2 separate regions of the Homo sapiens genome follow, and region 2 is reported to be linked to region 1. Evidence: microRNA targets listed by miRTarBase, many of them from high-throughput screens and not tested one by one. Region 1 holds a microRNA gene; the other region holds the end of a gene's coding sequence.

The links. The annotated mature microRNA hsa-miR-345-5p reads GCUGACUCCUAGUCCAGGGCUC and lies in region 1 at 2,499-2,520, opposite strand. An mRNA with a match to its seed (bases 2 to 7 or 8) in the 3' UTR can be bound and repressed. Matches are read on the target gene's strand: a 7mer-m8 pairs with bases 2 to 8, a 7mer-A1 pairs with bases 2 to 7 and ends in A, and an 8mer does both.
Region 2: miRTarBase lists TMCO5A as a target of hsa-miR-345-5p. The part of its 3' UTR that is shown has no 7-base or 8-base seed match.

The regions. Positions count from the first base shown.
Region 1 is chr14:100,306,328-100,310,395 of GRCh38, reverse strand. It overlaps MIR345 (microRNA 345), which reads right to left and starts at 2,537; the gene lies at 2,440-2,537. SLC25A29 (solute carrier family 25 member 29) reads left to right here and starts at 3,952. Exons shown (of 4, transcript NM_001039355.3): 1 at 3,952-4,068. RefSeq lists enhancers at 2,972-3,141, 3,172-3,241 and silencers at 3,332-3,401, 3,492-3,961, 4,022-4,068.
Region 2 is chr15:37,950,699-37,954,286 of GRCh38, forward strand. It overlaps TMCO5A (transmembrane and coiled-coil domains 5A), which reads left to right. Exons shown (of 12, transcript NM_152453.4): 12 at 338-724. The coding sequence ends at 536. Among named protein-coding and RNA genes, the nearest start is that of TMCO5A, 18 kb to the left of the region's middle.

The sequences.
Region 1 (4,068 bases):
CCACGCCCAGCCAGAACCCAAGTTCTAGAGGTAACGACGCCAGGCCAGGCAGAAGCTTCCAACATGGCAAAACCCCATCTCTACTAAAAATACAGAAAATTGGCCAGGCATGGTGTCGGGTGCCTGTAATCCCAGGCTACTAGGCCCCTTCCCAAGGACCCCAGGGACTCAGAGGAGCTGCCAGTGCCAAGGCCCTGAGAGGGGCACAAGCTTAGAGGGTGGGCTCCAATAAGAGGGCCAGAGGGCATGAAAGGTGGGAGGTGAGGTTGTAGTCTGGTTACCCTGGGCCTCACACCATGGCACTGAGCTCGAGTATTCCAATATGAGACAGGAGGCGACTGACAGCGCGCCGGCCCCACCAATCTTTGGCCAGGAGTTTGCAACCTGCTCAGGTGGCTCCCATCCCGAGTCTACACCTGTGCTTGCTGCCAGAGCCCTTCTGTGCACTCTCCCCTGCACAGCCTAACTCCTGGGAAGGTCTACACAGCTGGTGCCTCATCCTCTCCCCCTCAACTTGCCCTCTGGCAGCCTGAGTTGCAGCCACCCCCCCCAAGTCCTGGCCCAAACAGCTCCTGCAGGGGGTCATTCAGCTCCAAGATTCCAGGGTGGGGACAGAGACTTGCGTTTCCTTTTTACTTTCTGGCGTTTCTGATTTCTCCACACTGAACCTGTCTTGTGTGAGAATAAAAGCTGTACACAGGGAAAACTCCAACACACCCTTTCCAGTGAGCTGGCTTGACCCTCGGTGCCCCGTGACAGTCCCTCCGGCCTTGCTGTCCTGTGCTGGCCTTGGGTCTGCCCTGCCCCTTAAAAGGCTGGGGTCCTCAGGGCTGCACAGAGCCCTGCCTCCTCTGGGATGGGAGGTCCAGGGCTCTGTGGAACATGGGAGTTTGAGAAAGCACATTCTGTGCTGTAACCTTATCCTCAGGAAATGAAATAAAACAATAGACACTGAACCCAAGTGTCCAAGATGTAGGCATACGGATTCATTTACTTGGCACCAACTTTTTCACTCCTCCTTTCTGGTCTCTCCTCAGCCCTGACATGGAGGTCAGGGATTTGTGTCTGTCTTGTCCCCAACACAGGGCACAGGGCAGTGCGCCGACTGAGTGCATGATTCCCAGGCAGCAGGGAAACAGGGTGCTCAGGAAGATGTGGTTTTGCAAAGTTTAGTAACCCAGCAGCACACCCGTGTGGACGCATCCCTTTCCAGTGCCTGTCCTCACCCCCTCCCCAATGTCCCCCACCCAGTGTCAACTGTGCAGGCCCTGGGCACACCAAGATGAAGGGGACAGACCTGGGACCTGCCCTCAGGGTACTTCCAGCTGAAGGCAGCCCCCTGTCACCCACAAGGGAGCTGAGGCTCCCTTGGCGGGTCAGGTCAGGCAAATCTGTCCCAGAGCCCAGTCCTCCACTGTCCCCCACATGTTGACCTTAGTCCCCAAATCCAACAGCCCTCCCCCGACCACACACACACACCCAGAACCCTGCCCTCTCCTTGCAAAGTGCACAGCTAAGGGCCCGCACTCCTCATCTCCCAGGCCTGGCACGATCCCACTGCTGCCCTCACACGGCCTGCCTCAGCTCTCTCAACAAAGGACCCTCCCTGCAAGGAGGTTTTTCTTTTTGAAATAGGGTCTTGCTCTGTCATCCAGGCTGGTGCACAATGGTTCGATCATAGCTCACTGCAGCCTTGACCTCCTGGGCTCAAGCGACCCTCCTGCCTCGGCCTCCTGAGTAGCTAGGACTACAGGCCTGCAGGCATGCGCCACCACATCCTGCCGATTTTTTTTTTTTTTAGAGATGGGGCCTCACTATGTTGCCCAGGCTGGCCTCAAACTCCTGGCTTCAAGCGATCCTCCTGCCTCAGCCTCCCAAAGTGCCTGGATTACAGGCATGAGCCACTGAACCCAGCCTCAAGGAGGTTTCTGAAGCTCAACTATGGAATACCTACTGTTTACCAGGCTACTAGGCCCCTTCCCAAGGACCCCAGGGACTGACAGCTCAGTGCAACCTGCCCCAAGCATAATTTTCAAGGCATGTGCATTCTCTCAATAACAAAGCAAAACAGGTCATGCTTGTCTCCTTATCCGTTTCCATCATTTTCTCACTACTGCCACATGCTGTCAAGGTACTGGATTTCCCTCCCAAACCTCCTCAACCAGGAATGGATGTGCAGGGATTTGTGCTTTACCTCATGAGCCCTCCAGCATCCCAAGGACATCCTGTTCCTAAGGTAAGTGACTACATGTAGGTAGTCCAGTGTAATCACTGTGTCTGCAGGAGGCCTCCAGCCACCTGAGTAGCCCCACAGCCAGCTCCTGCCCTTTTGGGTCTGGGCTTCTCTTGGGGCCCCCATACCACTGCTTTTCTGGCCCATGGGCCACTCTCCCCCATCCGCACACCTGCCTCCCTGAGGCAACCAAGTGGGTCAGAGAGGCTGTCGATATTCAAACCCAGGCCTCCAGACCCCTCGTTCAGGGCCCACCAGCCATCACGAGCCCTGGACTAGGAGTCAGCAGACCTAGGGTTTGGGTCTCTGCTTAACATTCTACTTAGACTCTAAAAGGAAACTAACATGAGCACTGGGGACCCCTGCCCCTAGCACCAGGCTGCACTACTGACAACACCTACCTGTGTGTCCTAGTACCAAATACACAGAACCTTTCGACCTGCACCTCCAGGAGGTAGGTACCCACTGGAATTTGGATAAAAGAACCATGTGACCCTAAACCTGGAAACGTGGCACACGGTGTGGCCTTGCCTGCCTGCAGGCCCTAAAGAAGGAAGCTGGGCCCGGCCTAAGGCTGATCTGACTCCTACAGCGAAGAGAAAGCGCCTGGCCCGTCCCTGCTCCCAGGCTCCAACCTGACAGTCTGGACCTCCAGAGGCGCTGGGGAAGGGCTGGTGGGAAGTCACCGAATGGGACGCTCCACAGGGACCAGGGCAGTCCCTTGCCACTGCGAATGTCAGGGACTCCTGGGGGGCCGAGTCAGACTCGGCTCTCATTCATCCCCGCAGCCCATGGATACCCTGGTGACCCAGAGCCAAGCACCCTCCGACTTCAGCGCCTGAGCGCGGCCCCTACCGAGCCCCTCCGGTCTCGCCCCGTCCGGCCGCCGCTGACGGAGGCGCTGCGATCTGGCCCGACTCCACTCTGCAGCCCAGTCCAGGAACCTCCCTCTCTCCACAACCTTCCGCGGCTCCCGCGACCCGCAGTCCTCGGGAAGGAGCTGTGGCCCGAAGGCCTGCTGCGCCCTTTGCCCATGGCCCCTTTCCCTTTTAAGGTTCCCTGCTCTCCGCCCAAATCCCAGCCTCAGGCTCCGCAGGAAGCGCCCGTGCGCGTCCGACCCCCAGAACCCGGCGGGTTCGGCCAGGAGTCCGGAAGCCCCGGAGGCCACCGCCGCCGCGGGCGCGCAGGCGGGACGGGCAGAGGCTCCCCACGGGCGATTCCCGCTCGCGGAGTTTCGCAACTAGCGGCGTCCCAGTCTGCGGGCCTCGGAACGTCCCGGCGCTCCACGGCCGTTTTCGCGGCAGGGTCCGCACGGCACAGACTAGGGCGCTGAGGTTCTGCGGCGGCGCCGGACTCCGAACCCAGGGTCCGGTTCCCGACCCGGTCCAGACCAGAGCCACCCCGCGTACTCCGGGTGGGGGAGTCCTCGGCTCAACCCCGCCACCCCGCGCGTCCCCTCCCGCCGGACCTGCGCACCCAGCGCGCTCTTTGTCTGAGGCGTCCCCGCGCCCCGCCCGCGCGCCCACCACGTCCCCCGCGCCCCGCCTCCCGCGCACGCCCGGCCAATGAGGCGCGGCGGCGAAGCGCAGTGCCCGGGGTGTTGTCCGCGCCGTGCCCGCCCATTGGCCTCACTCGGCGCCCCCACCCGGGCCCTGCCGGCAGGCACGAGGGGCGGGGCGCGCGGCCCGAGGTGAGGGACCGCGGGCCGGAGGGGATCCAGCGAGTCAGCTGCCGCCGAGGGACCAGCGCGGGTCTAGCTGCTGCCGCCATCCCCACCATCCCTGACCGCGCCTGCCCGGGCTCCGCGCCAGGAGGAGCGGCCAGGCCCAGCCCCG
Region 2 (3,588 bases), not on the chromosome of region 1:
GAAACTTATACCTTGCTAGAGGGTTATAAGCCAATGAAACTGTTTTGAAAAACAACTTGCCAAAACAAAACCAAAAATAAACAAAACAAAAAATCAGAGAACAAAATTATTTTAGTGACAAATGCTACCCAGAAAATAAAACACGGTAATGGACAGAGAATAACCAATAGGACAGAATATGGGAGGGGGAGCTGCCATTATAAAAGGTTGTCAGGAAAGGGGGTGATAATCCATTTGAATATCAATTAGGAGCCAGATATGCATTCAGGTATGATTTATTTTTTGTTCCAAGTTTTCTAAGCTTCTGGTTAACAGTTTCATGGCATTCTCTTTTTAGGATTTTTTGCTGTCTCTTTTTCATCACCCTATTTTTCATCAGACTGCTGAGCTACATGTTTTTTCATGTAAGATTCATAAATCCAGATCTCCTCGTCAATGTACTGCCCAAGGTACTGGGCAGGAGCACCTTGTGGAAGCTCAGATGCTTCTTCTTTCCATCTCTCACACTTGAGACAGAGGACATGTTACCCCACTGATTCCCTAAGAAATATCCTTGAGCAATAGAAGGGAAGTGGGATCCGAGCCTGTAGAAGGGAGGCATGAAACTTGTGGAGGAAAGAGATTTGCTTCAGTTTTTTCCTCACCGTTTGCCTGCTTGACTACCTTCTGTCACCACGTCATCTTTCCAGGATTAACCTTGACCAGTAAAAAGCTCTGTAATAGATTTATGTGGCTCTGTGGATCGGCTGAATAGTACTTGATAGTAAACAAATTTGACCATTTGGGGAATTATATAGATGCTAAGAAAAGTTAATTGATAAATTATTCTAGTGAATCTCAAAAATCTGACACACTGGATTCCTGAAATACAGAAGATTACTTACTGCTTATATTAGAACTCATAGGTTATAAGTGACCTTAGCTTAAGATAATTTATAGCAAATACATAAGTATTTATACTTACATATTTAAATATAAAATAAAAAGTCTGTGAATAAATAAGCCAGGCAAGAAATCAGAAGACTCCACCAATTATCCCCCTTCAAGGACACCAATTTAACAACTATCTAAACAAAGAAAGCACCTTTTTAAGAATCAAAAATCAGGAGAGCACTCAGAGTCTGTAGTTTTAACTTCATATTGCTGAGACACGGAAGAGATAGGAAAAACAGTCTGGAATCACCAACACCCCCCCTTTCCCATCCTCCAGCAGCAAGGGTGTGGTGTGGAGAGCATTTCTGTGTGGTGAGGAGAGAAAGACTGCAGCATTTGTGAGACATTGAACTCAGTGCTTCCCCATTATAACAGAAAACAAAACCAGACCAAACTCACCTGACACCTGCCCACAGAGGGCTAATTTAAACCAGCCCTAGCTAGAGGAGAATTGCTGATCCCAGCTGTCGGAATTTAAGTTTCTGCAAGCCTTGCCGCTGCCAAGCTAAAGTACTCTGGAGGCTTATATAAACTTGAAATTCCTAGGTGAGTCCTAGTGCTGCACTAGGCCCAGACACAGTGGACTTGGCAGGGAGTGGGGGTGGTCACAGAGTGGCTAAGGGAGTGCTGGAATCACCCCTCCCCTAATCCCAGGCAGCACAGCTCATGGCTCCAAAAGAGACCGTTTCCGACTGCTCAAGGAGGACTCAAGTTGGGAAGACTTTGTCTTGCATCTTGAATAGCAGCTCAGCCACAGGAAGATAGGGCACCAGTCAGAGTCATGAGGCCCCCTTTCCAGGCCCTAGCTCCCAGATGACATTTCTAGACACACCCTGGGCCAGAAGGGAGCCTGCTACTTTGAAGAGGACTCAGTCCTGGAAGGACACATCACCTGCTAACTGAAAAGCCTCTGGGCCCTAAATAACCAGCAGCGATACTTAAGTACTATGTGGAGGGCTTTAGGTGAGACCCTGAGAATTTCTGGCTTCAGGTGAGACTCAGCATAGTCCCAGCTATTGTGGCTATGGGTCAAGATTCCTTCTACTTGAGAAAAACAGAGGAAAAAGCAAAGTGGACTTTGTCTTCCAGCTTGGTCACAGTGAGGTAGAGCACAGAGTGAGCCCTTGGGTTCCCAATTTCAGGACTTGGCTCTTGGAATACATTTCTGGAACTGCCCTAGGCAAGAGGGGATCCCACTGCCCTGAAGGGCAAGTCCCAGGCCAGGCAGCATTCACTACAAGCTAACTGAAGAGCCTTGGGGCCTTCTTTAAGGAAACATTAGTGGTAGTCCGGCAGTACTCCCCATAGGCCTATGGTGGCAGTGGCCATGGTGGGAGGCATCTCTGCTTTTGGAAAGGGGAGGGAAGAATGGGAAGAACTGAGTCTTTTGGTTTGAATGCTACCTTATCTGCAGTACAGTACAATATCAGATGGACTTCTAAAGCTCTTGACTCTAGACCCTGGCCCCTGAAAGCACCTCTGGACATGCACAGGGCCAGGGGTAACTCACCACCCTGAAGGGAAGGACACAAGCCTGGTTGCTTTGCCACCTGCTGATTGTAGAGCCCCCAGGGCCTTGAGTGAACATAGACCATAGCCAGGTAGTGACTACAGCAGGACTCGGGTAAGACCCAGTGCTGTGCTGGCTTCAGGTCTAACGGTTCAGCACAGTCCTAGTGGTTTTGGCCACAGAGGTACTTGTGTTACACCACCCAGAGCTCCAGGTGACTCAGAAAAGAGAGAGATGCCATTCATTTGGGGGGAAGTAAGGAAAGAGAATACGAACCTTTGCCTGATAATCCAAAGAATTCTTCCAGATTTTGCTTAAAACCATCAAGGTGGTACCTCTACAAGTTGGCAAGAACCACAGTATTACTGGGCTTAGGGTGGCCCCTAAAGCAGATATGGCTTAGATCACAACATCAAAGTCCTTTTGAATATCTGGAAGGCCTTCCCAAGTAGAATGGGTACAAACGAGCCCAGATTGAGAAGACTACAATAAATGCCTAACTCTTCAATGCCCCAGCACCAAACATCTACAGGCATCAAAAACATCCAGGAAAACATGACCTCACCAAACTAAAGTAAGGCACCAGGGACCAATCCTGGAGAAACAGAGATATGTGACCTTTCAGGAAGAAATTTAAAATACCTGTTTTGAAGAAACTCAAATTCAAGATAACACAGAGAAGAAACTCAGAATTCTATCAGAAAAATTTAACAAAGAGATTAAAATAATTTAAAAGAATCAAGCAGAAACTCTGGAGTTAAAATGCATTTAGCATAATGAAGAATACACCAGAGTCTTTTAATAGCAGAATTGATCAAGCAGAAGAAAGAATTAGTGAGCTTAAAGACAGGCTAATTGAAAATACACAGTCAGAGGACATAAAAGGAAAAAAATAAAATAAAAAACAAAGCACACCTACAGGATCTAGAAAGTAACCTCAAAAGAAAAAATCTAAGAGTTACTGGCCTTAAAGGGGAGATAAACAGATAGGCATAGAAAGTTTATTCAAAGGAATAACAACAAAGAACTTCCCAAACTTAGAGAAAAATATCAATATCCAAATATAGAACACCTACAGATTTAACCCGAAGAAGACTATGTCAAGGCATTTAATAATCAAATTCCCAAAGGTCAAGGATAGAGAA